Regions from separate parts of the Homo sapiens genome. Here regions 1 and 3 are each linked to region 2. Evidence: fine-mapped expression QTL. A gene starts in region 2. Each other region holds a variant in brackets. All regions are shown on one strand. Distances are from middle to middle.

Region 1 (10,687 bases), 54 kb after region 2:
TATGCCAAGGACGCACGTTTTCTTGTCCCATGAGCCAGGCTAGCCCCAGGGACCCTAAACTGGGTCTTTTCACTTAGATTCTGTTGCAGCATTTTGCGATTATAACCTGATCTGGTACAATGACCATTCCACTCTTCCACTCCCCTATTTATTTTTTTTAAGAAGGATAAAAACCTCCTTGCTCATCATACTAGTGTCTTACATATAAATGGCTATCAGGGTTTGTGCCTTCATAGGGACTTGAAGATGGCAAAGCTGTTCAGTCACACAACAAAATCGGTTGTCCCCACAGGCCCTGGTGGGATGTCAGCATTATCCTTTCCATGTTTTGGTGTGGGAAATGGAATTGCAGGGAAGCTAGGTTTGGAGTAACTTGTATCCCTGGGATGATGGAAGTGGCTGCAAGACAAGAAGCCCGGTTCATAGCCCAGCATCCCTGATGGACGGGCCTCACTGCTACTGCAGTAGGACAAAGTAGACTCTGAAGGGGCTTCGCAATAGCAAAAGGAAGCAACCACAGGACTTGCTTTGGTGGCCTTGAGGGAGCCAAGATGGCCGCAGTCAGACACATTTAAGCTTGCTGCAAGCAGATGCGGGCTGAGTGGCCAGTATAAACTGAAGTGCACTTTCGGGGCCCACCTTCTACGTTAGGCACCATTTGGACACTGCCATAGAGATGTGTGTTGTCTGATGAAAAAAGCACTACCCTTGTGAACAGAATAGCCTGGGGTCCTGCACCTGCTTCTCACCCACTGATTAACCTTGGACAAGGTAATCACAGACCCTGAACCCCCATGCATAAAATGGCATGACACGCCCCCACCCCAGCATATGCCACCAGGCTGGTGAGATGAGGAAAGCCACATTTGAGGGGAGTTTATTAGCTAGGGTGGTTTAGGCACACAGGCAAGGAATGAGTTCTTAAGAACGTAACTGAGGGCTCGTGCTCTTGTATAAGAAATACTTCGTTTGAACTAGTGCTGCCTTCACAGAAGATCACATCATGCAGCCAAAAAATTAAAAGGATTGTAAGGGATAATGCTGGCTGCAGCCGTCAATGTGGCCCCATTGAGAGCAGGATGAGGACGTTTACAGATGGAGACAGACACCATTTCACTGGCAATTGAATTAGAATCATCAGCTTAGCTCGCTTCTGGTCCCATCACAGATTAATCTAAATGGCACCCCAAGGAGACATCATTTTTTAAGCAGTTTGGGATTAGAAAAGGTCACACTTCTGAGAACGCTCCAGAGAGAAACACAGTGGTACCATTGTCTTCTGAATTCTAGCTTACCCTGATTTTGTTTGTACTGCATAAAGTCAGGTCAAGCAGTATGCCTCAAATAACTTGGATTTTTGACAATTACGCCTTCTTTCATGGCTGCCTTCCTGCCCTCCCTCTTTCTATTCCTTTCTCTGTCCTACCTCCCTCCCTTTCTTCTTCTTTCAATTACAGCCTCTAGTTCATTGGATTTGGAAACAAAATGAATATTATTTGAAGATTGCAAAGTATTCATCAAAACTCAGGTTTTGCCAAATTAAATGGCCGCAAACAAACCACAGTCTTTGCCCTGGGAGGAAAGCTGCCTTGATCACTGTCTCAGCCACAAGAAACAAACACATTCTTGGGTTTAGCTGACATGTCCCATAGAGACCTCATCCGTTTCTTCACTTTATGGCACATGGATGTACTAGTTATTTAGCTTTTGCTCATGTAACTTGTAAAACCTTCTCTAAGTGGCTTAAAAAAACTTCTTGGGTCCCACTCTGTTGCCTAGGCTGGAGTGCAGTGGTGCGATCATGGCTCTCTGCAGCTTCAAACTCCTGGGCTCAAGGGATCATCACATCTCAGCCTGTCGAGTAGTTGGGACTACAGGCACGCACCACCATATCTGGCTTCTAAGTGGCTCTTGCTCTTTTCAGTTATTCCTTTCTTTTCTGGTTTTTTTTTTTTTTTTTTTGAGATGGAGTCTCGCTCTGTTGCCCAGGCTGGAGTGCAGTGACGCAATCTCAGGTCACTGCAACCTTTGCCCCCCAGGTTCAATCAATTCTTGTGCCTCAGCCTCGCCAGTAGCTCGGATTAACAGGCACATGCCGCCATGCCCAGCTAATTTTTGTATTTTTAGTAGAGACAGGTTTCACCATGTTGGCCAGGCTGGTCTCAAACTCCTAACCTTAAGTGATCCGCCCACCTCAGCCTTCCAAAGTGTTGAGATTATGGTGTGAGCCACCGCGCCTGGCTCTTTTCAGTTTTTCAGTCTTTGCTTTCAACTGGAGCACATTCTCAGCAGCAGCTTTTGCTGTAGCAAGCAGTGTCAACAGCATCCCTCCGGCAGGTGACTTCCTTGAGTTGGCTTCCTCAACCTCAGCACAACCAACTACTCACATTTCAGGTGGGACAGTTCTTTGTGTGGGGGCTGTCCTGTACATTGCAGGGTGTCAGCGGCATCCCTGGCCCCCATTAGATGCCAGTAGTACCCCCTGCCCCAGTCGTCACAACCAAAAATCTCTCCGGACATTGCTAATTCAGAAAAGAGTTCCTTTTTATTTTTAAAGAGCTAGGTTTTTGTTGCTGTTGTTACAACTCTGTGATCTTAACAGATTAATTTTCTTAGGAAGAAAAACCATGACTGAGATATTTAGCTTCTTCGTTATAATTCAAAATTCACTCAATCATTTATTCACTCATGTAATCAACTGTAGGGGCAGCAAAATTCCACTTCCATACTCTTAGGGTCCTGCTTGTGCTGGAGAATTTAACTGACATAAGACAGATGAACAGGAGGAAAGCATGCACATTTTTAAATACAAGTTTTATGTAGCACAGGTACCCTCATAAGGAAATAAAGTCCTGAAGAAGTAGTCAGATATACTGAATTGGACAAATAATAGTAAGTTGTGAAGAAGCAACTAAATGATGTGGGGAGGCTTAAAAGGTAAGAGTTATTTGCACAAGGTTGGTACAGAATTCTTTCCATCTTAGCTTCTCATCTTTGAGAATAAGACTGTTGCATCTTTCACATAGGGATCTCATCTTTTGCTTTTAACAAATGGCATGAAGGTCAGAGTGATCTTCTTGCATCTGCTATTTTTCTTTTTCTTGTTTTTTTTTTCGAGACGGAGTCTTGCTCTGTCACCCAGGCTGGAGTGCAGTAAAGCGATCTCCGCTCACTGCAAGCTCTGCCTTCCGGGTTCACGCCATTCTCCTGCCTCAGCCTCCCGAGTAGCTAGGACTATAGGCGCCCACCACCCCGCCAGGCTAATTTTTTTTTTTTTTTTTTTGTATCTTTAGTAGAGACAGGGTTTCACCATATTAGCCAGGATGGTCTCGATCTCCTGACCTCGTGATCCTCCCGCCTCGGCCTCCCAAAGTGCTGGAATTACAGGTATGAGCCACCGCGCCCGGCCACACCTGCTGTTTTTCAAGTGGCTTTAACTTAGTGTCAATATGCCCGAGTGGTGTAATTTCACTCCTTCAGAGCCAATGTTCATTGGTCATTAACTAGGCCCAGACACCTCACTTGGCTTTGGGGACACACGCAGCTTTGAGAATAAAACAGACATAGGTTGTCTTGTGTCACTGCATTTATTTTATTTTTTAAAGACAGGGTCTCACTCTGTCACCTGGGCTGAAGTGCAGTGGTGCCATCATAGCTCACTGCAGCCTCAAACTCCTGGGCTCAAGTGATCCTTCCACCTCGGCCTCCCAAAGTGCTGGGACTACAGACATGAGCCACCACACCTGGAAATTTCACTACATTTATAGAGCAGTGGAGAAGAAGGTAAACAAGGGATTCCAGAAGTGCCACGTTGGTAAAGAATGCTCACACAGCTGTGGGAGCCCGATGAGGGACATGAGGTCCAGCCTGGCATGGATAGGAATTATCATCCTACCTTTCTGGTTTCCATGAGGTCCTGATGTACAGAGCATAGCATACTGCCATGTCCTTGAATGCCCATTTCCCATTCCTCCTGCCAGCCTTGATTTAGAAGTCCTTCTCCTGCTTTCTGGAGGCCTGCATTGTCTCTGGTGTCTGAGGTCCCTGGTTGCAGTGCTCAGCTTAAAACAGCAGAGAGCAGCTTCAGATCATGGCTGGGCAGAGGCTGAGTCAGCCTGCAGGATAACTGGCTCCTAGCAGAGGCGCTAAGGAAGCCTGGTATGGGCCAACGGACCAGGCAGGCCCTCCTTCCAAGCCTCGGCCAACAGGAACCCGTTTCCTGGCTTTCAGCCCTCAAAGAAACTGCCTGGGTCTGTTTTGAAAGATCTCGAGTTGGCTGAAAGGGACATTTTCCCCATGACTGGCACTGGTTGTCAAGCCTGCTGGGCCCAGCAGGAGGAATGCCATCTCTTTTATCTCACCTTCTTTGTTAAGAGGATGGGCTGGCAGGGAACCGCTTTGCAATTATCTTGTTTAAGATGAGCAGAGGAGATAGTTGCTCCCTGCAGGGATAACCCAGGTCCCCAAGCCATCTCCTTTAACCAGCAAATACATGAGCATTATTCTAGCTCATGGCCAGGGTGGGAGGAGGCTTGGTTAACTGGACACGGTGGCCTGGCGCCTCACTCTCCCTATCAAATCCTATCAAAGCTTCTCTGTTCTCAGCTTCTTTCTCTTGGGCAAAAGAGGTAAATTGCAATAATTTGTTCCGAAGGGGTGCTAATGGGTGGCACTCAGTTGATTTCTCATTCTCCCCACTTCCCCAAATCACTTAGCTGGTATCTCCGTATAAACAAGCCCTTCTCTACTTGAACTGAGGACTAAAGGAAATATATTTGTCCATATAATGGGGCTTTTATCCAAGAAGCATTTCTCAAAGTGTGGTCCAAGACCACCCCTATCTGTAACGACTTATAAAAATACGGATTTCCTTCAGCTCAGCTACATTGCCACAAATGACAGGATTGTATTCTTTCTCGTGGTCAAATTTGTATTCCGAGGTGTATGTACACTTTCTTCATCCACTCATTTGTTG[A/G]TGGACACAGGTTGATTCCATATCTTGGCTATTGTGAATAGTGCTGCAATACACATGGGAGTGCAGACAACTCTTTGGGAAATGGATTTCCCTGCCTTTCCTTTGGATATATACCCAGTAGTGGGATTACTGGATCATATGGTAAGTGAAATAAGCCAGGCACAGAAAGGTAAATACCACATGTTCTCACTTGTATGTGGAAGCTAAAAACGTTGAGCCTATAAAAGTAAGGAATAGGTTGGGTGCAGTGGCTCATGCCTGTAATCCCAGCACTTTGGGAGGCCAAGGCTGGCAGATCACGAGGTCAGGAAATCGAGACCATCCTGGCTAACAATGAAACCGCGTCTCTACTAAAAATACAAAAAATTAGCCAGGCGTGGTGGCACGCACCCGTAGTCCCAGCTACTTAGAATGCTGAGGCAGGAGAATCGTTTGAACCTGGGAGGCAGAGGTTGCAGTGGCTGAGATCACGTCACTGAACTCCAGCCTGGGTGACAGAATGAGACTCCATCTCAAAAAAAAAAAAAAAGAAAAAAGAAAGAAAAGTAAAGAGTAGAACTGTAGCTACTAGAAGCTGGGAAGGATGATGGGGAGAGGAGGATAGGGAGAGGTTGGTTAATTGTTACTAAATTACATCTACATGGGAGGAATAAGCTATAGCATTCTATGGCCCTGTAGTTGATAATTTGTTTTCATAATGGTTTCAAATATGAGAGAATTTTGAATGTTTCCAGCATAAAGACATAATAAATATTTGAGGTGATGAATATGCTGACTACCCTGATTTGAACATTATACCTTTGTTTACATGTATCAAAATATAATATGTGTCCCATAAATATGTACAATTATTATGTGTCAATTACAAATAATTTTCAATTTTAAAAATATGGATTTCCACTGTTTGGCAGCATCTACTAGAATTAGACATATGCCTATCCTGCACCCATCAATTCCATGGCTAAGAATATACAGGAGAATGGAGCATTTATGCCCAGCCAAAGATATGGTTAGGAACATTTGAGCGGCACTGTTCAATAGCCCCAAACTGGAATCAACCTAGACGTCCATCAACAGGAGAATGGAGGAGCAAACAGATTGTGATTTATCCATATTGGGCAATAAAAGTGAAGGAACTACCAATACAGTCAACATGATTCATCTCATAAACATGACATTGAGCAGGAGAATCCAGACATAAGAGTATCGGCTGTGTGATTCCATTTATAGGAAGCTCAAGAACAGGCTCAACTACTCTGTAGGGCCAGAAATTAGAATAATGTTACCTGGAGTGGGGCTGGGAGTTATTGACTGGGAAGGGGCATCAAGGAGGCTTTTGGGTTATTGGAAATGGTCAATATCTTGACCTGAATGGTGGTTATACACGTACTTATGTAAAAATGCACTGAGCTCTATACTTAAGATCTATAAACTTTACTATCTGTAACACACACACACGCGCGCACCACGCACTTCCCAGCCTTATTCCAGACCTACCAAACCCAAATCTCTCTGCGAATCTGCATTTTGCATCCCTGGTGGTGCCAATGCACATTGACTACCAGGGTTGCAGGTGGTGCGATTGTGAGGGGGTCATTTTGTCAACCCCCAAATCACACCAAACCCTATTTCCCATCTGGGGTGGAACATCACAAGATTTTCATACGTCAGTCCCTAAGGGAATAAGATTGGTGTGAGATTTCCCACCGGTTAAGATTATGGACAAGGACCCTGTGAACAAGATTGTCACAGTCCCTACCAAGACAGAAGCCACACTGTTATGGAAATATAGTTAGCCAACACTTTCACTTCCTTTCAATTGAAAGTTTAAAACAATTACTTCTATCCTTCAAACTTTTTGTGGACAAACATGTATTTTAAATTTAGAATCAGTCTATATGTAATGTTTGATCCTGTCCCTTTCTCTGTGTCACATCATCCCATGTTCAGCGTTATTAGCAAGAGGAGGCAGGACACGTTTGTCAAGTGTCTGGAATAGGCAAGACCTCCTGTATTTAGTCATCTCATTGGAGCCTTAAAACAAACCTATGAGCAAAAATACTAGGCTCATAAGGATTAAGCAACTACCGCAAAGGTACACAGCAAGTAGGTGCATAGTGGGGATTTGATCCTGATCTAACACCACAAAAAACTCTCTGGTGCTAACAGTCTACTACAGGATTCCAACTTTATTTTGTTTTAACTTGTGGCCATGAGTTACCTCTGTCATTACAAACTATGAGTAAACCTCATCTTAAAATATCTGCATCTTACCCAACTAGTAAACCATTATTTAATTATTCCCCTAATTTCGACATTATCTCCATGTTTGCCAATCAAATGTCTTGGTAAATGTGTTTTAACATAAACCTTGTATTTAGGATTAATAGATTAGGAGAGATTATTACAAATGGAATAACCAGGACAAAGACTATGCACATTTGAAAGACAGGAATAATTTTACTGAACTGCTCTCCAAAAATATTCTATTAATTTGTGTTCCTTTCAATGGTCAGCCTGTCTCATCCCACCCTCATCAACTTAAGGCATCATAACTTGAAACAAACTTTGCTAGTATGGCACTGCAATTCAATTTGCATGGGCGAGTTTGGTCGTTTTTTTTTTTTTTATTTTTTGTTTTTTATTTTTTTTGAGACAGAGTCTCACTCTTGTCCCCTAGGCTGGAGTACGATGGCACAATCTCAGCTCACTGCAACTTCTGCCTCCCAGATACAAGTGATTCTCCGGCCTCAGCCTTCCAAGTAGCTGGGATTACAGGCGCCCGCCACCATGCTTGGCTAATTTCTGTATTTTTGGTAGAGATGAGGTTTCACCATGTTGGCCAGGATGGTCTTGAACTCCTGACCTCAGGTGATCCACCCGCCTCAGCCTCCCAAAGTGCTGGGATTACAGGCATGAGCCACCGCACTCGGCCAAGTTTGATCATTTTTAATGTATTTATTATTCGGCTATGTTTTTCCTTACGTAAATGTCTTAGACTTTGAAGTGTGAACTCTTCATATGTGTATTCAGGAGCTGGTACTATTTTATATTTGTCATAAATATGCCTCATGGATTAAATTTTGTTTTCTAATAATGTTTACGTTGCTGACTGGTAAAATGACTTCAATCTTTGTGTAGTCAAATCTATCAGTAAATTTCTTCATGACTTTTTATTTCTTTTAAACTTAGAAATCTTAGAAAATTAATTACCAAGTCAGAAGAATATTCACGTTTATTTTCTTTTGTGTTGTGATTTTACTTTGTCCTTATCCATCAATCAGCCATGAATGTGGAAGTGTGTGGATGTGTGACACTGTGTGTATAAGTGTGTGTGTGTGTGTGTGCAGCCACAAGCACACTGTGAGGTGAAGATTCAACTAGATATTTTTAACTTGCTACTTCATTAAAAAGTCTTTTTTATAAAAACTATGATGTCACAAATAATTTATAGTAATTTTTCAAGATATTTTGTCATTACTATTTTCAAGGTCAATTTCAAAGTCACATTTTCAAGTTAAAAATTACCCCACTGACCTTTTAAAAAATTGCTACGGTTACGTTTGTGCTTGATACTCATATTTTCAAAGCAAAGCATATTCTATTTAGTGATACTTATATAGGTATTAAATCTATAAAGAAAAGCAAAGGAACGATCAAAACAAAAATCAGGATAGTGCTTGCTTCTGGGGAGGAGAGAAGGAGCTGTGATTAGGAAGGGTACATGAGAGAGTCTAAAGTGTTGGTAAAAGTCTATTGCTTAACTTGAGTAGTGGCCATATTATTGATCTTTGGTGAATAATAAGATAACAAATAATTTAGCAAATGAAGCAATAGATGTTTATAATCTCACATTTTCTGTGGGTCAGGACTCTGGGCACAGCTCTCTGCAAGGCTATAATCAAGATGTTGGTTGGTTGGGCTGCAGTTTTATCTGAGGCTTAACTGGGGAAGGATCAGCCTCCAAGCTCATGTGGTTGTCAGCACCATTTGGTCTCTTGCCTGCTGAGGACTGGAGGCTGCTCCTCAGTTTCCTGCTACGTGGCTACCATATAAGGTGGCTTACAACATGGCATCTTGCTTCTTTATAGCCAGCAAGGGACAGAGAGTCTCCAGCAAGACTCATGCTACAATCTTTTTTTTTTTTTTTTGACTGAGTCTCTGTCTCCCAGGCTGGAGTGCAGTGGCGTGATCTTGGCTCACTTCAGCCTCCACCTCCCAGGTTCAAGCAAATCTCCTGCCTCAGCCTCCCAATTAGCTGGGACTACAGATGCGCACCACCACACTCGGCTAATTTTTGTATATTTTTAGTAGAGTCGGGGTTTCACCATGTTGGCCAGGCTGATCTTGAACTCCTGACCTCAAGTGATCCACCCACCTCAGCCTTCCGTGGTGATGGGATTACAGATGTGAGCCACCGCACCCAGCCAAGACTCATGTTACAATCTTATGTAACGAAACACATAATCACATATGTGGAACACATACATCCCCTCACCTTTACCATCCCCCGTATGACTAGAGGCAGGTCACATGTTCTGCCCACACTCACAGGCAGGGGATCCCAGAACACAAGAGTTTCAGATTTCAGGGGCTCTGTGTTCATTTACATGTGTTTGTTTGGTAATTGTACATATACATTTGATACGTATTTCTAAACCTATGATAGGTTTCACAATTTAAATATTTTAAAACTGTGACACAATTATTGTAACTGATTAATTTAGATCTGAGTGCACCCACATACATCCAAGCAAAAAGGATCTCACTGCCATTGATGGCTGAGTCTGAAATAAAATCTAGAACTGACTCAGGTGCCCAGGATGACTGACTCCTCATTTCTGAGATATTGGCAGTTGCCATGAACTCAGAAGGCACTCTTTATATTGTACTTGGAAATTTTCAAATTGTTTAGAAATTACTACCATGCCCAACTTTGATTTGGAAAAAAAAGAGGAATTCGTTTAATCTATAGGTAATTTAAAAAGAAATACAATTTTTATAATACTTATGATGTACACAGACCGTATCTCCAAAGGTTGAATCTTCTTTGACCCCTTAATAAAGTTTAGTAGTTTTATTCATTCACGTACTACACCTTTCATGCCAAATTTTTCCTATATTTTATTTTTGTTCCTATTGTGAATGGGCTCTTTATTTTTAGATTTCTGTGGACTGGGGCTATTAACCAGGAACATGACTGAGTTTTGGATATGCACCAAGTCTCTTGCCACTGTGCTAAACTACCATTAATTTTCCAAGAGTTTGTTTTTTGTTTTTTGTTTTTTTTTTTTTTAGGGTTTCTACGAACACAATGGCAAGATCTGGAACCTATGCCAGTTCTTGTTTCCTCCTTTTCAGTGGCCATAACCTTGATTTACGTCTCAGGGACCCAAGTTCCATAAAAAGCTTTAGCGGTCAGAGTCATACATCTCAGACTGTCAGCATCTACTCCAGGCCAGTCGCTTAACCTCTCTGTGCCTCAGTTTCCTCATTTGGAACGTGGAGCCATCATGGAATCTTCCTCGTTGAGTTATTGTGAGGGTTAAATAAGACAATACCTGCTTTAGCACAGTGTCCAATTCAAAGCTCAATACGTTTATTGATAAAGCATCATCATTGTTATATTTTAACAGGAACTTAAAAATGAAAGGGAGGAGACCCCAAGTTGTTAACACCATGCGGGGTGGCAGGAGCAGGCAGCAGGGGACA
Region 2 (10,687 bases):
CCCCAAGAAGGGATTCAGTAAACGAGTTCACTGGAGGGTTGCAGATAACTCATTTCTTGCCTTGGCAGAATTAACCGGGCTAACCCCTTTTGCATAAGGTTTATGCTAGCAGGTTAAAGGCTTTGTTACCAGTCCTCTGACAAAGGCATCCAAGCACTTCTGGCAAGGTAGCCCGGTTTCCAGTTCACTTTGGAGGGACAGCCCAGGCCCCACAACCCGGATTTTTCCAGGTCAAAAGGTGGATACCAGTAGCTGCTTTTGCCATGCATTTCACCACCCTCCCTAGTCACAGCTAGTAACGGACTATGGACTCGATCCAACCAGTGAGATTTGAGAATTAAAGATCTGAAAGCCTGACAGCGAAGCTAAAAGCGTTACACATTAACTCAGGCTGTGGGCAGCCACTTCCCACCATGTGTCAGACCCTCTAGAGGACTCACTGGCAATCACTCCAACTCCCTGTGCAGATGGGGAGGTGGAGGCAGCGAGACTGGCTTGAGGTAGTAGATAAAGGTGATTTACTCCAGGGACACTCCGGAGATGAAACTTTGAATATGACTTGAGCTTATTTATGAGACAGGGACAGGCCTGCAAAAGGGACTGAAATTCCTGGAGCAGAAAGGCTTCCCCCACTATACCCAACAGTCCTTTGTGGAAAGGGCGGGGGTTCAGTCCACAGGGTGAGCTAGACGGGAGCAGCGCTACCCTTGCATAGGGCTCTTCCTAGGGGGTTGATACAGTTGAAGCAACAGGAAAGAGAAAGCCCCCTTTTCCTGAGCCTGGACAGAACCCATGAGGGTTGAAAGTGAGGAAGCAGCTTGACAGGCTTTGGAGAGAAATTCAGCTCTCCTGTGGCTTTGTTCCTCCCCAAAGCTTCCAGTATAGGCCTCACACATCTGACGTATTTGCAGTTTGTGGCTCTAGAAGCCAGGACTCAGAGCGTGCTCAGAGGACAAGGTGCATTCCAGGAATCCACACGCCCCCACTGTTTGCGTTACATAAAGCGTTCAGAACCCACTCCAAACTTGTTTTCCCCTGAGTGGAAAGCTGTTAAACAGCTCATTTAGCACCTGACGCCAGTTAGCGGTTTGCCCAAGTTACCCAATTGGAGCTAGTTTACCCCAAAGGTAGTCGAAGAGTTAAGTATCCTAAGCTGCTGCTGCTTAGAAGTTTCAAGAACACATTGTTGCCACTTTAGAATTAAGTTCAGGTGATACTTATGTTGCTCGCTCACACAGCAAAAGGAAGAATTGCCACTGTCTGAAAAGCACGCAGGTGTTCATAGATCTGGCACACCTGCGTTCTGTTTCCAATTGTCTGGGTGGGCCCCTGCAACAAGTGCTCGAGCAACAAGGTCCCTGCTCTCAATCCCTAAAAAGGGGAGAGTCGAGACGCTGATGAACCCCATAGTCATAAGCAAACCAGTGTGCAACAAAATGGGAGTATAGCTTGAGGGTGGATTGGCCTTAAACTGAGGCATCAGTGAAGACCCAGAGACAGGTGCCAGAACAGAATGACCCAGGAGACTTGCTCCTTGAGCCAGGCAGAGCCTCAGCATGCCAGTGTCTCAGAAGCCCAGGGAGGATGTTCGGTCTCAAGATAGAAACCTAGGCTACCCAAGGCTCAACAAGCTTTTAAAGTTTCTCTGGCTGCAGTAAGGGGCTCCAAGCAGATACAGATTAACTGGTCAGGAAGAAATTAGAATAACCCAGGTTAAAGAGCACCAAAGCAGGGCTGTGGCTACAGAAAGATTTGATACAGAGGTTCTAAGCAACTAGATTTAGTGAAGGCTTTAACCTAAGTGGGGGGTGAGATTTCTGGTCAGTGCAGCTGGAGATGCAAGGACGCTGGTCACTATCGGAAGCAGCACCCCAGAGAAATCAGCAGGGAAGGGGAAGGCAAATTAGTCTTATTCTGGCTGTCGTTCAGTGCGAGTAAGGGGCCTTTCAGACCCTTCCTACGGAGCTCCAAGTAGACAGGTTCCAGAAAGGGCCAGAGAAGTAGCTGGGTCCTCAGAGATGTGAACCACTGGTGTATGCAGACCTCAGGATCCCCATCCTATTAGAGAGTTATGACAGCTGAAAGCAACTCAAGTATATCCTGGCAGTGACCCTTACACGCTTGACACCTGATAGCGGCTTAGCCACACCTTGGGAGTGTAGGTGTACCTGATCTGTATCAACTGCTTTTTGAAGCGCAGTTCTGTCCCAGCTGGCTGCTCTGGACCACTCTGTATTCAAGTCCCCTCCATACACCATATGTGTTCATTGGCTCTGGGTCGCCTCGGCTTCTCGAACATGGTGCCATCCCTATTTAATTCAGTGGGGGCCCAACACAACAGGATACACGAAGGCATGAGTGGTGACTAGGGGAGCCCAACGAATAGGCTAGACCCACAGTAAAGACGGTTCAAGTGTTAAAGCTCCCACAGCTGACAACACCAAACTGAGCTCGCGCCCCACAGGGAAAATCCTGGAACACCCTGGTGTTTCCCATTTTCCTTTCACATCCTTCAGATTTCCTGCCACGTTCATATAGACTCAAGTGACTACGAACAAACAGCTCCCCCACCACCACCATAAAGCCTCTGCAGCTCCAACATGTAACTTTCAAGCTAAAAATAAGCTGTAGAGCCCAGCAGCTGGGAGTTTGGATATGTTTTACTCAAGTTCGACTGTTTAGTTTTCAGTGTCAACTCCAGCAAGGCTTTATGCACGAGTGTAAAGGTTACCAGCTTGCAAGAGCTTGAAGTTGGTCCTTCGTTTTCTTAATCTTGTTACACGAATGCACTACCTGTGAATGCAATTATACCATTTGTTTTAAGGGTCTCAAGGTGATTTGATGAGTTCTAAGTTATCAAAGCAGATGCAGCGGCCTACAAGCCGGGCCTGCGTATCTTACTTTAGGAATCTGTTTTGTACATTCTCCACGGCTCCTCAGTTCGCAGAGCTACTTTCATATCCGTTATTTCCTGATTAACAGTTGTGGGTGGGGAGTGGGGTCATCCCTAGGAGCATCTTCCAGGTGTCAGGGTTATTCCTGAGAGTTAAAGTTAGGGAACGCGGGAATGAGAAGCAGTGTTTGCAAGGGGTTGAAGTTGCAATTTAAAATGAGACCGGTGACACTCATCAACTAACATTTGAGCAATTAAGTACTTCTGAAGGACACAGGAGTCAGCCAAGTAGATCTCAGGTAAGAGTTTCAGGAAAACACCCTCCGAAGCCAGTACCCAAGGCAAAGATGATACAGATGAGGGGAGGCGGACAACGGAGTCTAAGTGACCCGGAGACTGTCATCCAGGACCCTAATGGGCCGTTTTCAAGACTAGCTTTTACTTCATGAAACTTGGAGCCCCTACAGACAAGCTGAGGAATATTTTACTTCGGATGGATCACTCAGCTACCTGGAGAACACACAAGGTTAGGAAGAATAGGAGACAGGCAACATGGCCACTAACCCAGGTGAGCCACGAGAGACTGCTCTACAGAAGTAGGTAGCAAGAGACTAACCTTGATACAACCTTAAGCAGAACAGACCTTTCAGAGAAGCAGGAACCGCTCACAGCGTGGGTTTCAGAGTTTTTAGCTACCCGCAAGTACTTTGGTTTCTCCCACTTTTACCACCCTCCTAGCCCCCAGAGCCCCAATGGAAAACTTGTACCCACGCTACTGAAAGACGAGACTAGAAGCTTGGACACTTCACATTCCCTGCTCTCCCTTCCACAATTGAGCCACTGCCCTGGTTTTAGAAGTGGGGCTTGTTTTGCTCTGAAGTAACCCTTAACGTCCTTAGAAGTAGCAGCTCCCCTACCCCTCTCCCCACGCCTTTGCCTTTTAAAAACCTTAACTTTTGAGAGAGAGAAACAGCACAAGTTCAGGCCCAGCAGAGTAACCCCTACGTTGTTGCCAGCAACTACTTCAAGGGCAGTTAACCGTGCTTAAAGACGCCAAAAGCATCCATCTCCCGCTTACAACAACATTTAGCTACCCCCCACCCACGTACTTTGCTTTCTCCCACTTTTACAACCCTCCCACCCCCAGAGCCCCGAGGGAAAGCTTGTACCCATTCTACTGAAAGATGAGACTAGAAACTTGTACACTTCACAGCGCCTGCTCTCCAGCTGAGCCACTACCCGGGTTTTACAAGTGGGGCTTGTTTTGCTTTCTTAGGAAATAACCTTTAACTTCCTTAAAAGCAGCAGCGCCCCCACCCCCACTTTTGCCTTTCAAAAGCTAAACTTTTGAGAAAAAGCACGAGTTCAGGCCTAACAAAGAGTAACCCTTACGTTCTTGTTGCCAGTAACTACTTCAAGAAAAAGCACTTAACCGTGCTTAGAGAAAGACGCCAACAGCATTCCTCTTCCACTTACAACAACATTCAGCTACCCGCCCGCACCCCGCCAAATACTTTGCTTTCTCCCACTTTTACAACCCTCCCAGCCCCCAGAGCCCCAAGGGGAAAGCTTGTACCCATCCTACTGAAAGATGAGACTAGAAACTTGGACACTTTACAGCCCCTGCTCTCCCGCCACAACTGAGCCACTACCCTGGTTTTAGGAGTGAGACTTGTTTTGTTTAGGAAATAACCTTTAACTTCCTTAAGACCGACAGCTCCCCCATCCCCCACGCCTTTTTTGCCTTTCAAAAGCTCAACTTTTGAGAGAAAAAGCACGAGTTCAGGCCCAACAAAGAGTAACCCCTACGTTCTTGTTGCCAGCAACTACTTCAAGCAAGGGCACTTAACCGTACTTTAAGAAGACGTAAAAAGCATCCCTCTCCTGCTTACAAAACCCGAGCAGGAGGACTGGCGGCTGGGCAACGCCCGGGACCGGTCAAAAAGGAGAGGCCGGGGAGCGCCCGCCACGCAACGCGGTCACAGGTACAGAGAGGTTTTTCCAGACCCCCACCAAAGCCCGCCAGTACTTTCAGCGTCTTTAAGACCCCCCCGCAAATAAACTTCCTACAGCCCAGCTTCTCCTACAAGCTAGCAACAGAAAGGCACCCACCCCCCGACTCCCAGAAGCATTCTGACGCGGCTGCTTGTCTGCGCCGCCTTTTCAAGGGCCCGCGGGGCGTGCTATACGTCACTTCCGGGGCGGGGCGAGCAAGGCGGAGGCGGGGCCGGGGCCGGCGGGGGAGGGGAGCGCCAGGTCCGCGCAGGCTCGCCGGGACCGCAGCCGCCGAGCCGAGCGCTTGACTATATATGGTCAAAGCTGGGGGCGAGCCGCGCGCGGGACCGCGCTTCCGGGTTCGGGGCGTCCGCAACCACAGCGCGCAGGGCAGGCGCGAGCTGGCCTCTGAGCCCCGGCCTCGGACCGCCCACTCCACTCCCGGCACGCCCGGTGCCGCCTTCCGGCTCCAGTCCCCGGGCTCGGCCTCGGCGAGGTGTAATTCGCAGCGCGGGCCGGCCCCGGAGGCTCTCGGCGAGCGCGGCGCGGTAACAAGTGGGCGAGGATGCCGTACGAGATCAGTAAGTGCCGCGGCGCGGGGCCCCCGAGCGGCCGCCGCGCTGCCCCGGCCCCGGTCCCCGGCCCCTAGGCGCCGTGCGGGTGGCGGGGGAGTCCTCGGCGCGGGGGAGGGGTGCGGGCGCCGGCCGGAGGCGTGGCGGGGCCGCCCTCGGTGGTGCAGGGCGGGACCCCCGACGGGGGGTGCGCCCCCAAGTTGGCGCCGTGGGCCGAGCCGGAGGAGCCCCGCTGCCCCCAAGGGCCTGGCCCGGGGCGCGGACCAGGAAGTCGCGCGGTTCCTGGCGCTCGTGGAAAGTGGAGGCCGCCCTCCCGGCGCAGTCAACAGGTGACCGGCCGAGACCGGTCCGGGGCTCCTTCTCCCTTCTGTCCCCGCCGTCCCCGCCCTGCCCTGACATGCCCCGCCGCATTTGTGTCTCCGCAGAGAAGGTGTTCGCCAGCCTCCCGCAGGTGGAGAGGGGCGTCTCCAAGATCATCGGCGGCGACCCTAAGGGCAACAATTTTCTGTACACCAATGGAAAGTGCGTCATCCTAAGGAACATCGACGTGAGTACCCCCTACCCCGGGCGCGGTTCTGCTCCGGAGCCACCTTGGGATGGGATAATTCGCCTTCCTCTCCACTTCTCACCTCCTGCCCATTGGCCCGGGGAGGGTGAGGGCGCCACGCCCCCTCTACCGGGAGCCACACCTCGGAGCCCCGGAAGCCGGCCTCAGATTCACCCAGGTCCTTGTCTGCTCCTTCTTGATGAGGAAACTGAGTCTTAGTTCGTTTCTGTCTACGGTCATAGCACCCTGAAAGCGCCGGATCGCCTCTGATCTTGGAAGCTAAGCACGGTCAGGCCTGGTTAGTACGTGGATGGGAGATTAGATTAGTTCATTCCTTAAAAGCAAGGGCTCCGGATTTGAGGGATCAGACTGACCCGGTCGGCCGCTGCGTGACCTTGAGAAGATTGGCGATTTGGGCATCTCTGAGCCCCAGTTTTCTCGTCTGTAAAACAGATGATGAGATGATGACCACTCTCGCTTCGCCTGCTGGCTGGGCAGATGGAATGAATGAGCTGCTGGCGTCCCTCAAGCCCAGCGGTGCCTGGTGCACTTTGAGCCCTTGCTGAATGGAATGGCACTCAGCTAACTCGCTGTTAATACCCTGGTCTTCCAGTATGGCAGAGCCCGGAAAAACACCCGGGCCTCTGGGCCAGCCAGATCTGCCACCATGGATCTAAGCCCCAAAGCAAAAACAGGAAGCAGTGTTTTCCCATGAATCATTCTCTGCAAGCCTCCGGTACCCAGGCTGAAAAGGCTTCTAGAGCCAGCTCCTTGGGAAATCCTTGCAAATTCATGTTATTCCTCTGTAATTGTTGGGGTGACCCAGTCTGTCAGTCTCCCTCCCTTCCTGGGTTACACGCTTAAATTTTGCTTTTCCCTTCCTCAGCCTGAGTGATGGAATTGGTGGGGTGGGAGTTGGAGGTGCCGGCCCGGCCATTGGGTGATTTCTCCTGTGCTGTGCTTAGTGGGGGCGGCTGGCACAAAGATGTATGTTTTGATTGATGCCATAGGCATACAAGGGTTGTCAACTTAAAGTCAGCCTGATTTCCCTTGGTAGGTTGGGACTGTTGATCGGACACACTTGCCCTCCAGGAGGCCAGCAACTGGCTGAGGGAATGAAGGGGTCTCTGGGTCTCAGTTTCCTTCTCTGTGAAAGGAGAAGCCTCTTGGTCCGAAGAGCTGCTGGCTCTGCCCGCATCTGTCTCGTTAACCCAGGCAGTCGCTGCTGTTCCTCTGCTGGAAGACAGAGCTCTACCTGCCCTGGATTGCTGGGCCCCTCAAATGAGGGGGTGGGCGGGTGTGAATGTGCTTTGAAGGTGCTAACAACTTGCTAGTCACACAGATTCCTAGAAAGCCGAAGGGCCTTGCTTAGAACTGGAGAAAATCACCAGGGATCTAATGGTAATGATCTGGAAGTCTCCGAAGGCAGGTCCTGAGGCTTTTGAGAAAATAAAAATTGAGACAACCCTAAAGAGATATTTAGTAGTTTGGCAAATAAAATCCACTAACACGTCCTCGGATACAGAGCAGTAGGATATTTCGTTTTGCCCCTAACCAGGCCTTCCCTGTCGTTGCAGTCCACATTGACTTCCAGGGAGGGGGCCTCACATAAAGTACCTGCTGTGCATCTGGCCCTGTGATAGCTTCTTAAACTGTAGCATCTCTTTCCACCCCACATGGGTCCGTTACTCTAAAGAGGAGTCAGACTTAGCAAGGTGAGGCAGGCCAGTAACTGGAGCTGCTTCTAATGGAGTGGTCATTCAGGGACAGGCACCCCTTTGCAGAAAGCATTTCCCAGCTTGTGAAACCCATTCTGCCTGTTTCTGAGCTCTGTATTCTTACCCCTTCCCCGTGGTTTGCCATTTTCTTCTCAGGGGTTACCCTGTTTCCCTTCTCAATTATTTTTAAGTTTCTGCAATGCCAGGTCAGCACGAGATGCTACTAATATAGCCCTCCCTGGGCTGGATGTAGATCAGGCACTGAGTCTCTTGTTAGTTGGATGGGTGGACTGGGTACTCAAGTAAAGGTGGGTACGATTTTTTTTAGGGCAAAGTACTCTTGGAAAAAAAAGTGACATGAATTGGCATGACCGTTCAGGAAGGATGATGGTCTGTTTGGAATGCAGGCTCAGGGAGGGAAGAGGGAAGAAATGGAGGACCAGATCATGGAAGATCTAACATGTCTCATTGACATCTCAGACTCAACATACATACTCCAAGCCAAATTTGTGTTTCCCACGTGCTCTTCCCCTAAAAGGGAACACCGTTCCTCCAGCTGTTCAGGCCCCAAACCTTGGACTCCTGTTTCACTCTCTGCTTCGCTACTGCGCCACATTTTAATTTTAGTAAATCCTTCTGACTCCACATTCAAAGTATCTTCAGAATCTAACAGATTTCCCTGGCTTCCTCTGCCTCCACCCACGACTAAGCTATCTTCCCCCACCTGACTTATTGCCCCCAGACTCCCGAAAACCAAACAGGTCTCCTTGCTTTCACCCTTGTTGCCCTGGGGGTCTGTTCACAACACTCGCTGGAGTGGCTGAAACACAAGACAGGCCTCTAGTGGCTTCCCACCTCGGTGAAAGCCAGAGTCCTTACCGTGGCCTCGGCTCCAGCGTTCTTGCCTCCTTGCTGCTTCTTGAACATGCCACACATCTGTCTTGGTACCTGCTAGTTATTGCCTTTGCCTGGACATTTTCTCAGATAGCTGCAAGTCTTGCTCCCTGTCTTCTCTTTGGTTTTTCTTTTTTAATTTGAGGTGGAGGCTTACTGTCGCCCAAGCTGGAGTGCGGTGGCGTGATCTTGGGTCACTGCAACCTCCACCTGCCGGGTTCAGGCAAATCTCCTGCCTCAGCCTCCCGAGTAGTGGGGACTACAGGTACGTGCCAATTCACCTGGCTAATTTTTGTATTTTTTAGTAGGTAACGGGGTTTCGCCGTGTTGGCCAGGCTGATCTTGAACTCCCAACCTCAAGTGATCTGCTCGCTCGCCTTGGCCTCCCAAAGTCCTGGGATACAGGCGTGAGCCACCACACTAGGCCTTTCCCTTTGGTTTATACTTAGATGTAGTCACCTTAGTAGAGGGGTGTCCCCGGAATAGAATTTTCCATCCCCGGCCTTCTGTCTTTCTCATTGCTGACAATAAGTAGGAAGCAAGCTAACAAGCAGCAGGCTACGGCTGCCTACAAGTGTACATAGGTATCTGCCTGTCCCCCTAACTGGGCATCAGCTCCAGGCCAGCAGGGCTTTCCCCTCTCTTTCAGTCACTGCCGTGTCCTCGCCTAAGAGAGTGTCTGGCACACAGTAGGTGCTCAGTGAGTTACTCATTGATTAAAAAGCCTGGAAAACCAGGCTGTGTCGTGAAGATAATAGGCAGCCACTGAGGTCTTACTGCATGAGAACAAGGAAAGCTCAGCTCAGTGTAGATTGCCGGACCTAAATTTTGTGGAATCGCCTTTCATACCTAAGAGGCGAGCACCGTTGCCAGCTTTGCACTTGGAGCCCCCTCTGTCATTTATTTTGTTGACTTAAAAGCTGTTTTGTGAACCCAGCATAATGGCACTTCTTAAACTTGTAGAAAAAGGGTGTTTCTTACCTGTTTATTTCAACACATCTCGTTGCCTCACCTGGAGAGGCAACTCTCCTCTGTAGAGTGAAAGACTATAATGGTGGCCATGTAGAAACTAATATTCCAGAAGGAGAGAGCTCCAAGAAGGGGATTCCAGTGAACCATATGTACACTGTGTTTGAGAGACATTAGTTCCCCACGGAGAAGGGATGGATAGTCTGTGCTTCGGGGGTCTAAGGAAGGCTTCCTGCAGGTGCTGGTACCTCCTTAGGTCTGGGGTGGTTCCTTCTAAGTTTCCTTACCCTGCCTGCATCACCTCTGCCTCTTATGACCTCTGTGCAAAGACTGGGAAGGGTCACCCCCAATGGCTGTGAACGAACCTGTTTGTGATTCTAAACAGGGCACGGGACCATCCTACAATAAAAATTACCCAGCCTAAAATGCCAGTAGTGCCAGTAGTCCCTGTTTAGAAAAAGAAAAAAAAAAAGCAACTTTTGCCTCACAACAGAGGCCCTCTTGTGTGCTGCCAGGCAGCCAGCAGATTTGCTATGCAGGCAAGTTTGGGGCCTGGTTTTTAAAGTATCCAGTTCCTAGATTCCAGAACTAAAATACACATTTGGAAAAATGATGTCTATAAAATTGAGTTTCCGGGAGTGCAAGGTTTATAGCAATTTGACACTGCTGGGAACCCAGGCGCAGTATCAGTGGACTTTTCTCCTTGAACAGGGGGCAGACCAAGTGGGGGGTTGGGGAGGGTATTGGGCTCACTCTTGGTTTCCCTTGGTGTGAGCTGCCACCATTCACATGCAGAGGACTCACCTGTGTTTCCTGCGGGTTGGGGGTAATGGTGGCATGACAGAGGGCTTGAGGACTGACCTAGCTGCTTCTCCGGAATTGGACGCCTGCTGACTACCTGCGTGTATCCAGATGGCCATTGGCCTGTGGGGGTGCAGGATGGAGGCCCTGCCCACATGGAGCTCACTGTCCTGGGTGGGAGTGAAATAAACTCTAGGTGGCAGAAGGAAGTGGTGCGTTGGATTATCACCTGGGTGCAAACGAGCTGGCAGCAGCGCCTGCCAGGTGCAGAGCCAGGAACCTCTAGGCCTTCAGTCTG
Region 3 (10,687 bases), 23 kb after region 2:
CGCAGAAGGAGCACCTGTTGAAGTATGAGTACCAGCCTTTCGCTGGGAAGATCAAAGACATTGCTTGGACTGAAGACAGTAAGAGGATCGCCGTGGTCGGGGAAGGAAGGGAGAAGTGAGTCACTCCTCTCAGCCCCTCCCTGCCCTGTTGCTGTGGCTCATGCGTCCATGTGCTATGACCCTGGGAGGGGGATGCGCTGATGTCTGTACTAACTTGCACTCGTGAGGGTTGAGCTCCCAGTAGGTGCCGGGCCCCGTGAGGGCTGGCTGCAGCCCCAGGTAAGGTAGAACTCCACATCACACTGGGTTTGTCACCAGGGCCCAGCACTCATGTATCTCCTCTGACGTCCTGAGTGCCTTGCCTGCTAGAACCCCAGCTCTCATGCCCACCTGCAGGCAGCAAGAAGGGGACAGAGTGAAAGAGCAACAGCACTTCTATTCGGGGTCCCTCACAGCAGCTGCCCCATGAAGCTGCCAGGGAGGCTGAACTGTTTCTTCCAGCTGGGCACCTCCCCCAAGGGTCTCTGATGGAGGAGGGAGGGGCAGTGGATGCTGGCTGGGTGGCACTGGGTGGCTACTGACCTCAGGGGCCTAGTGACTGGTGAGGTTGGTGCCGAAACCCAGGTTTTTTTAATTCAAGAGAGTCAGAGTCCCCCCTGCAGCACCATGGCTGGCCATAACCCCTTGAACTTGACAGTGGCATGTCTGTTCTTCACTGAATGGCACTTTCTCGTACATGTTCTAGTAGGTGTTTTTCCATGGCTTCTCAAGTCATTCCTGTTGGTCTTAATTCCTTCTTTTTTCAGTAGCAAATAGTAACTAAAACAGTGTTTTTGTTGAATGTCAGCCAAGAGCAGGGCATCTCATTCCTGTAGGGGATGGTAACTGTTCCCTCCCAATAGAACTGTAAGGAGAATGGTGAAGCTGTAAAGATAGCCCTGGGCCCTGTGGCGTGGGGCCCCACAGACACACACATGCATCCCCTTCCCGAAGGCGCCGGCTTGCCCCATCTTGTTCTTGGGTCCTTTGGACAAATGCCTTGTGGAGCCAGAACCCCAGTGCTTCCCTCATTTGTCCCTGTGGCGTTCTGAGCTGCCTGCTGACAGTCACTCCATCCTCTGTGCACTGGCAGCTCAGCTATCAGATTGCTTACCAGCCTTCTGGGATTGATTTTTTTTTTTTTTTTTTGTCTTCCACCTGTGTCATTGGGTCAAGGTTTGGAGCAGTCTTCCTCTGGGATAGTGGCTCTTCTGTGGGCGAGATTACAGGACACAACAAAGTCATCAACAGCGTGGACATCAAGCAGAGCCGGCCATACCGGCTGGCCACGGGAAGCGATGATAACTGCGCGGCATTCTTTGAGGGACCCCCATTCAAGTTCAAGTTCACAATTGGCGTAAGTGAACTTACTTTTTGGGTGAAATTTGTGGTTTGTACATGAGGCTAGCAGAGGCTGAGCCTGTTTAGATGCTGATGGCAGAGACCACAGCACATGCCACGTATGCCATGATACACAGAAGTGGGCTCCCAGGGGTGTGCAGAGAGAGGGAGGGCTCCCCCACCCAGCACTCGTCCTCCCCAGGCCCTCAGCTGGGCATGGATGGTTCCCACAAGGAAGGGCCCTGCCCTAGGATGATGTGTGCCTGTCGGGGATTGGGGCAGGAATGTCCCTGACCGTGTAACCAGGCAAGCATCTGGGGCTGGAGGTGCTCATTAGAGAGGGGAGCCTGCAGGGCCTGCTGTTAGCTGAGCCACCAAAGTGGCAGAGGAAGGGAGCTTGCGGGACATCCAGATTGGTCTCTCCTAGAGACAGTGAGGGCAGTGATGCGCCTGCAAAGTGACAAACGGTTAGAAGACTGAAAGATACTTTGTGGAAGAAATGTGCCAGAAATGCGGCAGGCTTTGGGTGTAGCTGGCAGCATCTCAGAGGCCCATGCCGTGCATGCGCCCCGCCTTAGGCACCCAGGCCTTGCCAAGCCTCCTCACTTCTCCCTTCTGCAAGACGGGGGTGTGCCGGGGCCAGCAGCATCTGAGGGTTTTGACTATGAATTTGAAGTAGGAGAGCCACCTGGCAGGTCTGGAGCATCTGTGATGCCCATTTTCCTGCCCCAGCTTTGTAGGAGTGAGGGGAGGAGCCCAGCAGCCAGTCTCAGCACAACCCCACGGCTCTGCCCTGGCTTTCCCCATCCCGCTTGTGCTTGCGCTGAGGATGGACAAGAACAATGGACCCGGAAATGCACATTTTAGGGACTGTTGATGTCCTTGGAGGAGGTTGTGTTTGCAGATTGGACCAAGTTCTCGGGACTCCTCTTGGAACCGTCAGTGGTTTCACTGTCTGCCTCATGGAGGATTAATGAGATCATGTCCTTAAAGTGGCTCAGTGAGGAGCACTGTCCATTTTAGTGACATCATGCCATGAATCATAAATAGCCTGCGCAGTGCAGCTGGAAAGGGCGAGGACGGGACCCACAAAGTGAGCAGAATTTCCAGAGACTGTTCTTGGCTTAGGGTACAGGAGGGGGCTTTCCAAGGATGCCCCGTTCGTAGTGAAACAGGCTTCATTTTGTCACGGAACCGCAGGCTGAGCTGGGCCTGGCTGGGCAGGTGAAAGCATAGGGAGGCTCCCTGTATGCAGCTGAACACGCGGCAGCTCTCAGACTCTGCTCTTGTGGCTACCACCTAATGGGTAGGTAGTGGAGACCTGGCTATTTTGGGAGCTGTATTGAAGGCTGTGGCTTCAGGCCATGTTTCTTCGCTAGGGTGGAGGCACTGCAGAGCAGGGTGAGTAATGCTGAGTCAGCTGCACACCCCATCTCAGCCCAGGGCAGGAGGAAGCAGCTCAGAGACTTCTGTGGTAGCTAGAAGCCGGCTGTGGGTGGGGGCTCCTTGGCCTGCCCTGGGAGGGATCATTTCCACTCTGCAGCTGTGCATTAAACCCAGCACAGGGTGCTCAGCAGGGTCAGGGGCACCAGTTTGTTCCAGGGGTGGGCTGGAGCCTGTCTTCTTCACCAGGCTGCTGTGCCCCTGTGTGCTTGCTTGGGGACTTGTCCAGAACATTCTTTCTCTTTAGTTGTCCTTTCTAACTTCAGAAAGGACTTCACCCCACTGCCCTGGCCCAGGAGTGTTGGGTACAAATGTCTGCCCAGCTAGCCCAGCTCCAGGGTGGGTACCACCATGTGTCTTGAAGTCTTTTGTGGAACCCACAACCATGGGCCCTGCCTGAGGACCTGGGAGAAATAGAAAGGGCTGTGGCCTGGCACAGAGCTAGGTGGCTGTGCCCCCCTCGGGTGAGTCATGCCTCTGGGCCCTCCCGGAAACAGGGTGACAGTGACCCTTGCGTGCTGCACCCTCAGCCACAGGGAGGGTGTGAGAGGCAGCAGTGACCATCCACATGCTCAGGAGACATGTGCGGACTCAACTGCCCACGCATAGGAAGGACAGGAAGGGTGCTCAGGGACCCCACACCTGCCCCCAAATACCTTCTGAGTTGCAGATACACTTTGGTGTGTATCTGCACTTAAGCCCTCCGGACCCCAGAGGAAAGCTGCGGTCGTGCTCTCCATGACCAACCCCAAGACAAAGGGAGCGCGTGCAGGCTGGGGGAAGTGAGAGGAGGTGTGAGTGCTAACATGAGGCCCAGCCACAGTCAGCTTTGAGGACATGGTGGGCTGAGCATCGCTGGGCTTCCTCCCGTATGTGGGCTCTTCTGATGTGGTCGGAAAGCCTGGGATGTGGAAGTTCTCAGGAATTAATTGAGCCTGTTATAGTAAAAGATTTTAAAACCATATGTGGGCATTTTTTATTTTAGAGGGAATTAAGTTCCACTTGCTGTGAAATCCACATAGCAGTGGTCTTTTTTCCCCAGATCTTTCATTCTGCAGCACATGACGGCTGAGTCTGGGCTGCCTTTGCCTCCGCACCAGCGCTCAGGCCTTGGTGGCCTTGCCTGCCGCCCCTCGCCTCCTGAGAATGAGCAGCTGTGGTGGCAACTCGGGCCTGTCTTCATCTGCGCCTTCTGCACCCACTCCCTGCAGAGGCCCCCTGTGGCCGGGACCAGGAAGCTGCCCTGAGCTTGGGGGTGCAGCGCTGGGGTGGCAGGTGCTTCCCTAGTTACCCAGGTGGGAGAGGGACTGGCGTATGACTGCGGAGGGACCAGCTGGGTCGTGTTGGAGCTGCTGCCTTGAAAAGGAACAAGGCATGTTCTGAAGGCGTTTCAGTACAAGCTGAAGCAGAACTCCATGATGCTGTGCCTGAGCTGAAATGCAAGCAGCATTCCCTGTGTGCCCCTCGTCCTGAGGGACCGTAGCCCAGCTTTGGTCTTCATTTGCCTGAATGAGGCTCCAGGAAGATGGGAGTGGAGGAACATTTGGCCTGGAATAAGCCTGGGTGCCGGCTCATTCCTACCCAGTGACATTGAAGACGCGGTAGGTGACCTGCGGAAGTAACTTCCGGGGTTACAGGAGAACGGTTCTGAAAGGAGACCCTGGGCACCGTGGTCTCGGGTCTCCAGCACTGGCATTTTGCGAACCCAGGGGTAGGTTCCCCTCAGAGGGTCTGACCGTGGCCTGAAAAAGGGAGGGTGGCGAGACCATCTCCCTGCCTTCCCCCATCTCACCCATGGGGATGTCTTCATGCCAGGCAGGCTCCTGGGATAGGTACTCCTGGATGGGTTTAAAGGCCCCACTGAGTTTCTCTCTGTTGTCTGCCTTCGCCATGCGCATTACTTGGGCCAGGTTCTTTGCCTCTCTGGCCATCCGCTTCCTCCGGTCGGGTGAGCAGTTGGTTTGGTGGTCTAGGATGACCACACGCCCCCTCTGGAGTGTGGCTCACAGCTGTGTGCATGTCCTAGGTCCCAGGAGTTGGTGGTGCACTGGATAGTTTGTGTCTAATGAAATGGTTACTTAGAGCAGCATGTCGTCCTGGGGGCTCAGCCTTATGATGCAGAACTGAGAACTCACTGCCAGATCTAACAAGCTGTGATTGTAGGTGGAAAAATGTTCAGCACGGAAGACTTCTGGCTTCCCTCACTGGGGTGCCACTGCTCCCTCTGTTCCATTGCCTCTGCCCTGCGGGGACCTCATACCTCACATAGTTCTCCCACTTGAGGCTGGAGCCAAGCAGGGCTGGAAACCTCAGCTGTGGCTGTTACCGGAAGTGCTGCCTTCCTGATAGATAAGGAAAATTTGAGCTCAAAACAGGCAAGGTTTCTGGTGGTTTTTCTTTTTCATATTTCCTCACTCAAGACAGGGCAGAGAGCAGATGTTTCAGCCCTTCTGGCATGTATGGTGGCTGCCTGGGCCATGCCCCTGTGATGGGCATGCAGGACCGCCTCCCTTGTCTTCAGCACGCGCCACCCCTCCTGTCGACTGGCCTTGCTCTTCACTGGGCTGATGGCTGACTCCTGAAAACTGGGGGCTGACAGCAGGGAGGGTGACCTGGCCCAGGTCACATGGCCAGTAGGTGCCCCAAGGACGGTTAGTTAGGATGAGCCTCTTGTCCCTTCATATGGTCCTTGTTCTCCAGGGAACATGGTGACTGAGCTGACCCGTCCCGGGTGACGGGAGAGGCAGTTGGGTGGGTAGCTCCTTCGTGCCCCTCAGCCCAACTAAGTGGACCGGGCTGCAGGGCTGCCCCAGGGCACTTTGCAGGGAAGTTTGCTGCGGGGGATGGGTGGGCTGAAGGATGGTCCAGAGCCAGCCTCGCAGGTCACGGTGTAAAGGTGTTTTGGGAACACCCATTGACCAAGGGTCGTGGAGGCCCGTGCTGGGCTTGTGTGGGGTGGGACTGGGCACAGGGGACCGAGAGCCTGTCCCCTTCTACCAGCTCATAGGCATGTGAACAGCCTAAGGGTGGGCTTGTGGTCCTCTTGTGTACAGGGTCAGCTGAGGCTGGGGGGAATGGGGTGGGCTCCCAGAGGGTTCCTGAGCTGACTAGGTAGGTAGTGAGCATGTGTGTGCTGGAGACAGGCCAGCTGGGGCCTGCAGCGCTCTGTCGCTCTGTGATGTTGACATGGGTGTGGTACTTAATTATGACCTCAGTGCTTCAAGCCTCGGTTTCCT[C/T]GGTGGTGAGAGGGAGCATATTGGTGGGAGGGAGTGAGGACTGTGGGGAGGGGGGCTCGTTGATACAGGTCAGTCTTGGCTATGTGTTGGCTGCAAGGGAGGACAGGCAGGAGTGTGGACCGGACACCGTCAGTTGTCCACCAGGGATGAGGCTGGACTGAGACTGCTGCAGCCCCGCTGGTTGGCTGGGGTGGGGCAGAGGCAGGGGGCCGGTGAGGGCAGCCTCAGGAAGCTGCTGCCCCTGAACTCCCCGGGAGGTTCCCCAATCCCTCTCCCTCTTTGTTCACTGGCCGGGCCTCCGTGTGGAAAGGGCTATTTTTAGCCCTCGCTTTTTTTGGTTAATGGGCTTTTCGCGGCTTCTCTCTTTGAAGGGGCTATTTCAGGAGCAGACATCAGTGTCTGCATTTGGACTCCTTGGCTCGAGGTGCAGGAAAAGGTGATGGGGATGAGCTACTCGAGGGGCATCTGTGTCCCTGGACTGTGCCGGGCCCCTCCCTTGCCCCTGCTGGGTTCTGGGGCCAGGGAGGGACACATGACACCACCCTGCCAGAGCCTGTGGGAGGCGTCGGCAGAGGTGAACCACAGACTTGGATTTGGGGTCCTGGGGTTTGCGCGAGCAGGAATGTCCTCGCTTCTGGGACCTGGAACTGGAGTAGGAATGTCCATGTTTTGACCTCAGGGAGCCACTGAAATGGGCACTTGTGACAGGTTGGAATTGAACAGTGGCTGATTAGTTTCCTCCATTTTGTAGCAAGAGCCATCAGCGTCCACTGTCCCACCCACTCATCTGGGCTTGGGTGATTCGGGCATTTGGGGTGAGCTCTTTTCTCTTAGTTCTTAACTCATTCGTCAGAAGGACCCAGGGGTCAGCCAGGCCCAGCCATCTCCCTGGCCCACTGCACTTCAAGGAAGCTCAGGCTGGCTTGGAGGAGCCAGTGCGAAGTCAGCGGCAAGGCGAGGCTGTGCTGGCCAAGGAAGCGGAGTTCGGCAGCGAGAGAACTCGATGTGCTGGTCAGAGGTCTAGGATTCGAGCTGTGGTTATGTCATGGTCAAGGTTGTGTGGCCTCATCTGGAAGGAGTAGTGGTGCATACACCCCTGTCCACCCCCCGCCCAACAGGGGGTCTAGAAGTGCTTTGCCTCAGGCCCTCCCACCACTGCCTTCACTGCAGCCGGCTCCTTCCTGCAGCTCTCTCGGGAACTGCCCTGTGAGGCCCTTTGACACAGGGAATGTGGACCCTATGGACTGACATGGACAAGGGACCGTGGGCCATGTTGACACAGATAGGAGGTGGACCCCATCGGCTAACCCCGACGGGAACAGGCCCTCAGTGCATGACGGCTCCCTCATGGTGGGTAACAGCAGAAGGGGGGATGCAAATGGGCCTGCGGAGTTAGGGATCTGACCTCTGGGATGACTCTGGGCTGGAGCACCCCCAGGCTTGCTGAGCAGCTGCCCAAGGCCCAGGAGCCAGCGCAGCTGAGACGAGAGCTCTGGACAGGAAACTGGAGACCAGATTCGTGCAGGTGATGTGGCTTTGAGTTACCCGCTGCTCCAGGCCTGGTGTTCTCCTGTGAAGAATTTGCCCGCAGGCTCTCCATGGCCCCTCGGGGGGTAAAGCGTCTCTGGAGGGCCCTGGAGCCCCATCTGGAAAGTTGGTTTTCACTCTCAGCAGCTGAGTGGATCGGGCCTTCTGGGGAAACTGCTTTCCCCAACTTCACATACCTAGAAGTGCTAGAAAACTTAGAACACAGACCATTTAAGCAAAGAAGACCAGCCTTAGAACTAGTGAAAAAGGTACAAAAGGAACTAAAGAAGCAAGATGCAGAACTGCGCTTAAACACAAGGAAGGGTGACCTCTAGCACCATAGCCAGAGACGACCGTCCAGTCCTGTGTTCCCCGTTCCATCTCCTAGTGAGCCCTGGGCCCGCCTGGGTACTGCACGCCTTGTAGTTTGGCACTGCCTTGCCTGGCCAAGCCTTGCAGCACCCAGGTGCGGGGGGCAGGCAAAGGGCTCGCCAGCCCCATCGCTCATGAGCTGATCACAGACCTGAGCCCAAGTTCAGACTGAGCCAGCCTGGTGCTTCCATCCCTGTCCTCTTGGGCGGTGACCACAACCTACAGAGGACGAGCTCTTCAGTCATAGAACGGAATGCAAGCACCATGACAGCACTCCCTGAAATGAGGCAGGGAGGACAATCTGCTCATCCACTGGGATGGAAACGTGACTGTCGTCGCCCTCAGTAGCTCCCGAGGAGCACTGGGACTCCCCTTGTCAGAATGTGTGATTTCTCCGGCTTTCATCTAAGTTAAAACACGGGTCAATGAGGTGGGAGATCCTGGTTCAGGTGCAGGGCCAGGGCCTGCTGGGCCTGTGTCCAGCCTGACCCCAGCCGTGAGCAGGTCTTGGCAGCACCCTGAGGAGGGCTTACCTGAGGCAAGCAAGTTTGGGTTGTTGGCTGGAGGAAATGGTTTAATCTTTGAAGTGCAGGAAGCCCAGGGTTGCTTTTGTGCCACAGGTCTGGGGTCGCATCACTCTTGGGCCTAGAGAGATTTCTGGGGCGGGGAGTGGCCTCTCTACGAGAACTGCCTGCCCTGGGGACATTGCCAGACTGAACGGTGTCTGTATCTTCTGCTGACTCTGACGGACTTTGTGGGGACATCGATTTCCTTGAGTGTGGCCCTTGGGACCCCCAGGCACCTGATTCCTCTTTCTGGGCCTATGTTTCCTCATTGGTGAAATGGGCACAGCTCACCTTGGTGGGTTATTACATGAGTGTCAGAGGCAGCATTGATGACATGTGTTAGTGTGCCGCAGCTGCCATAACAAAGTTTGTTAAGCCACAGATTGGGTGCCTTAAACAATGGAAATTTATTCTCTGGAAGTCAGAAGTCTGTAGTCAAGGTGTGGGCAGGGACGCACTCCGAGTCCTTCCTTGTCTTTCCCAGATACTGACAGCCCTGGGGGTTACTTTTTGTGAGCAGAACTCCCATCTCTGCCTCCAGCTTCACCCCAACTCTGTATCTGTGTCCAGATTTCCCTCTTAAAAGGACACCAAGTCCTGCTGGATTTACAGCCTGCCCTAATGACCTCATTTTAACTGGACTGCATCTGCAAAGACCCTGTTTCTGAATAAGGTCTCATTGGGTCCCAGGGTTGGGACTTCAGCATGTCTTTTGGAGAGGCACAATTCAACTGAAAACATTACACAATCAAACACAGGCAGGTCCCCCACACAGGTAGCTCATGCTTTAAAATTAAGTCCGTGATTTACTTAGAGCGCGGGGCAGCTTATCCGCCTTGGGGTTGAATTGCTTTTCCTGAAGGTTAGTGTTCGTACCTGCTGAGCAGCGAGCCCTTCCTGTGCCAAGAGAGTTGTTAGCACTGGATGTGCATTTGCCGGGTTAGCGCCGCCTGCAGGTGGGCAGCAAGAGGGCAGGGCAGGTGTTGGCAGCTTTACAACTGCTTATTTAAGGATCAGTCTCTGATACAAACTCTTGTTGACTGCGGAAAGAATGCATTCATTTCCTTATTCGAGTAACAGAGTCGCCCCTGGAAGTCATGTCATTTCCTTTTAGTCGCTCAGGCTCTTGTTCTTGATGAAGGTCATAATCATTAACTTTGTTTAAAAGTTAATTATTGGCCAGGCGCAGTGACTTACTCCTGTAATCCCAGCACTTTGGGAGGCCAAAGCGGGGAAACATGAGGTCAGGATACTGAGACCATCCTGGCTAACAAAGGGAAACCCCATCTCTACTAAAAATACAGAAATTAGCCAGGCGTGGTGGCGGGCACCTGTCGTCCCAGCTACTCGGGAGGCTGAGGCAGGAGAATGGCGTGAACCCGGGAGGCGGAGCTTGTAGTGAGCAGAGATTGTGCCACTGCACTCCAGCCTGGGCAACAGAGCCAGACAGGGCTGGTGCCTCCAGGAAGAGGCCTCCTGGTCTCAGCCATCGTGAAGCTTAAGGATTGGGGCTTGAGCTCTTTCAGAGCCCAGAGGGAAGAGGGCAGCTGCTGGGGGCACCTCACTGGGGGGGGCATAACTGGAGGTGGTCTGCCTTCGCTCGGGCTAATCAGCTTTCCCAGCAGGTAGAGCGGTCAGCATGGCAGGCAGGCTGGAGCAGACTCCTGCCCCTCCACTAAGGGACTGCCCAGGATGTTTTTTTAAGCTCTGAAATTTTCCAGTGGACTAACAGTTCACACTGATGAACAGCTGGAGCTGCAAGCTGTGTTTCATAGAGAGCATTCTTGAACCTAGAGTCAGGCCTGCGGCCCCTCATCAGGCAGGTAATTGTTTTCCTGCAGGACCACAGCCGCTTTGTCAACTGTGTGCGATTCTCTCCTGATGGGAACAGATTTGCCACAGCCAGTGCTGACGGCCAGGTAAGAACTGGGATGGGTTTTGGGGTGGGGAATGGCTTGTCTGCCTGCTCCCGTGACTGCTCAGAGCCGCAGGCTGCCTAATGCTAGTCCTGACATGCAGAACTTAGACATCGCCCTCCCCACATCTGCAGACTCGTCGTCAGAGCCCAGTAAATGCATGTCTGCTTTTAAACCACACTGGGAGCTTAGTCTGTGAGCCCCGGTTTTCTACAGCCACAGTCCATGGAGAAACTGCTTACTCCAG

Direction of the effects. Positions count from the first base shown, and alleles are read on the strand shown. Sizes are in standard deviations (SD) of each study's normalised expression. Not every link is listed here.
With allele T in place of C in region 3, the expression in testis of the gene that starts at base 5,321 in region 2 is higher (small effect, 0.29 SD a copy in GTEx).

The links. PIP is the estimated chance that this variant, and not a neighbour inherited with it, causes the effect.
Region 1: its variant is fine-mapped to the expression of WDR1 in whole blood (TOPMed, PIP 0.99).
Region 3: its variant is fine-mapped to the expression of WDR1 in testis (GTEx, PIP 0.99).

Annotation. Positions count from the first base shown.
Region 1 is chr4:10,057,303-10,067,989 of GRCh38, reverse strand. It overlaps LOC124900665 (a long non-coding RNA gene), which reads right to left and starts at 3,976. Exons shown (of 2, transcript XR_007058029.1): 1 at 3,896-3,976. RefSeq lists an enhancer at 4,033-4,647. The variant A/G (reference allele first, on the strand shown) is at 4,976.
Region 2 is chr4:10,111,433-10,122,119 of GRCh38, reverse strand. It overlaps WDR1 (WD repeat domain 1), which reads left to right and starts at 5,321. Exons shown (of 15, transcript NM_017491.5): 1 at 5,321-5,469; 2 at 5,886-6,007. The coding sequence starts at 5,454. LOC124900666 (a long non-coding RNA gene) reads right to left here and starts at 5,031. Exons shown (of 2, transcript XR_007058030.1): 1 at 2,902-5,031; 2 at 2,643-2,793. It also overlaps the pseudogene RNA5SP155. RefSeq lists enhancers at 3,820-3,909, 3,990-4,089, 5,860-6,009, 5,660-6,464, 8,297-8,797 and silencers at 5,010-5,129, 5,140-5,549, 5,630-5,779, 10,241-10,535.
Region 3 is chr4:10,088,420-10,099,106 of GRCh38, reverse strand. WDR1 (WD repeat domain 1) reads left to right here. Exons shown (of 15, transcript NM_017491.5): 4 at 1-115; 5 at 1,216-1,396; 6 at 10,366-10,443. Among named protein-coding and RNA genes, the nearest start is that of MIR3138, 15 kb to the right of the region's middle. RefSeq lists enhancers at 2,386-2,875, 2,280-3,479, 4,057-4,827, 7,142-7,912. The variant C/T (reference allele first, on the strand shown) is at 6,060.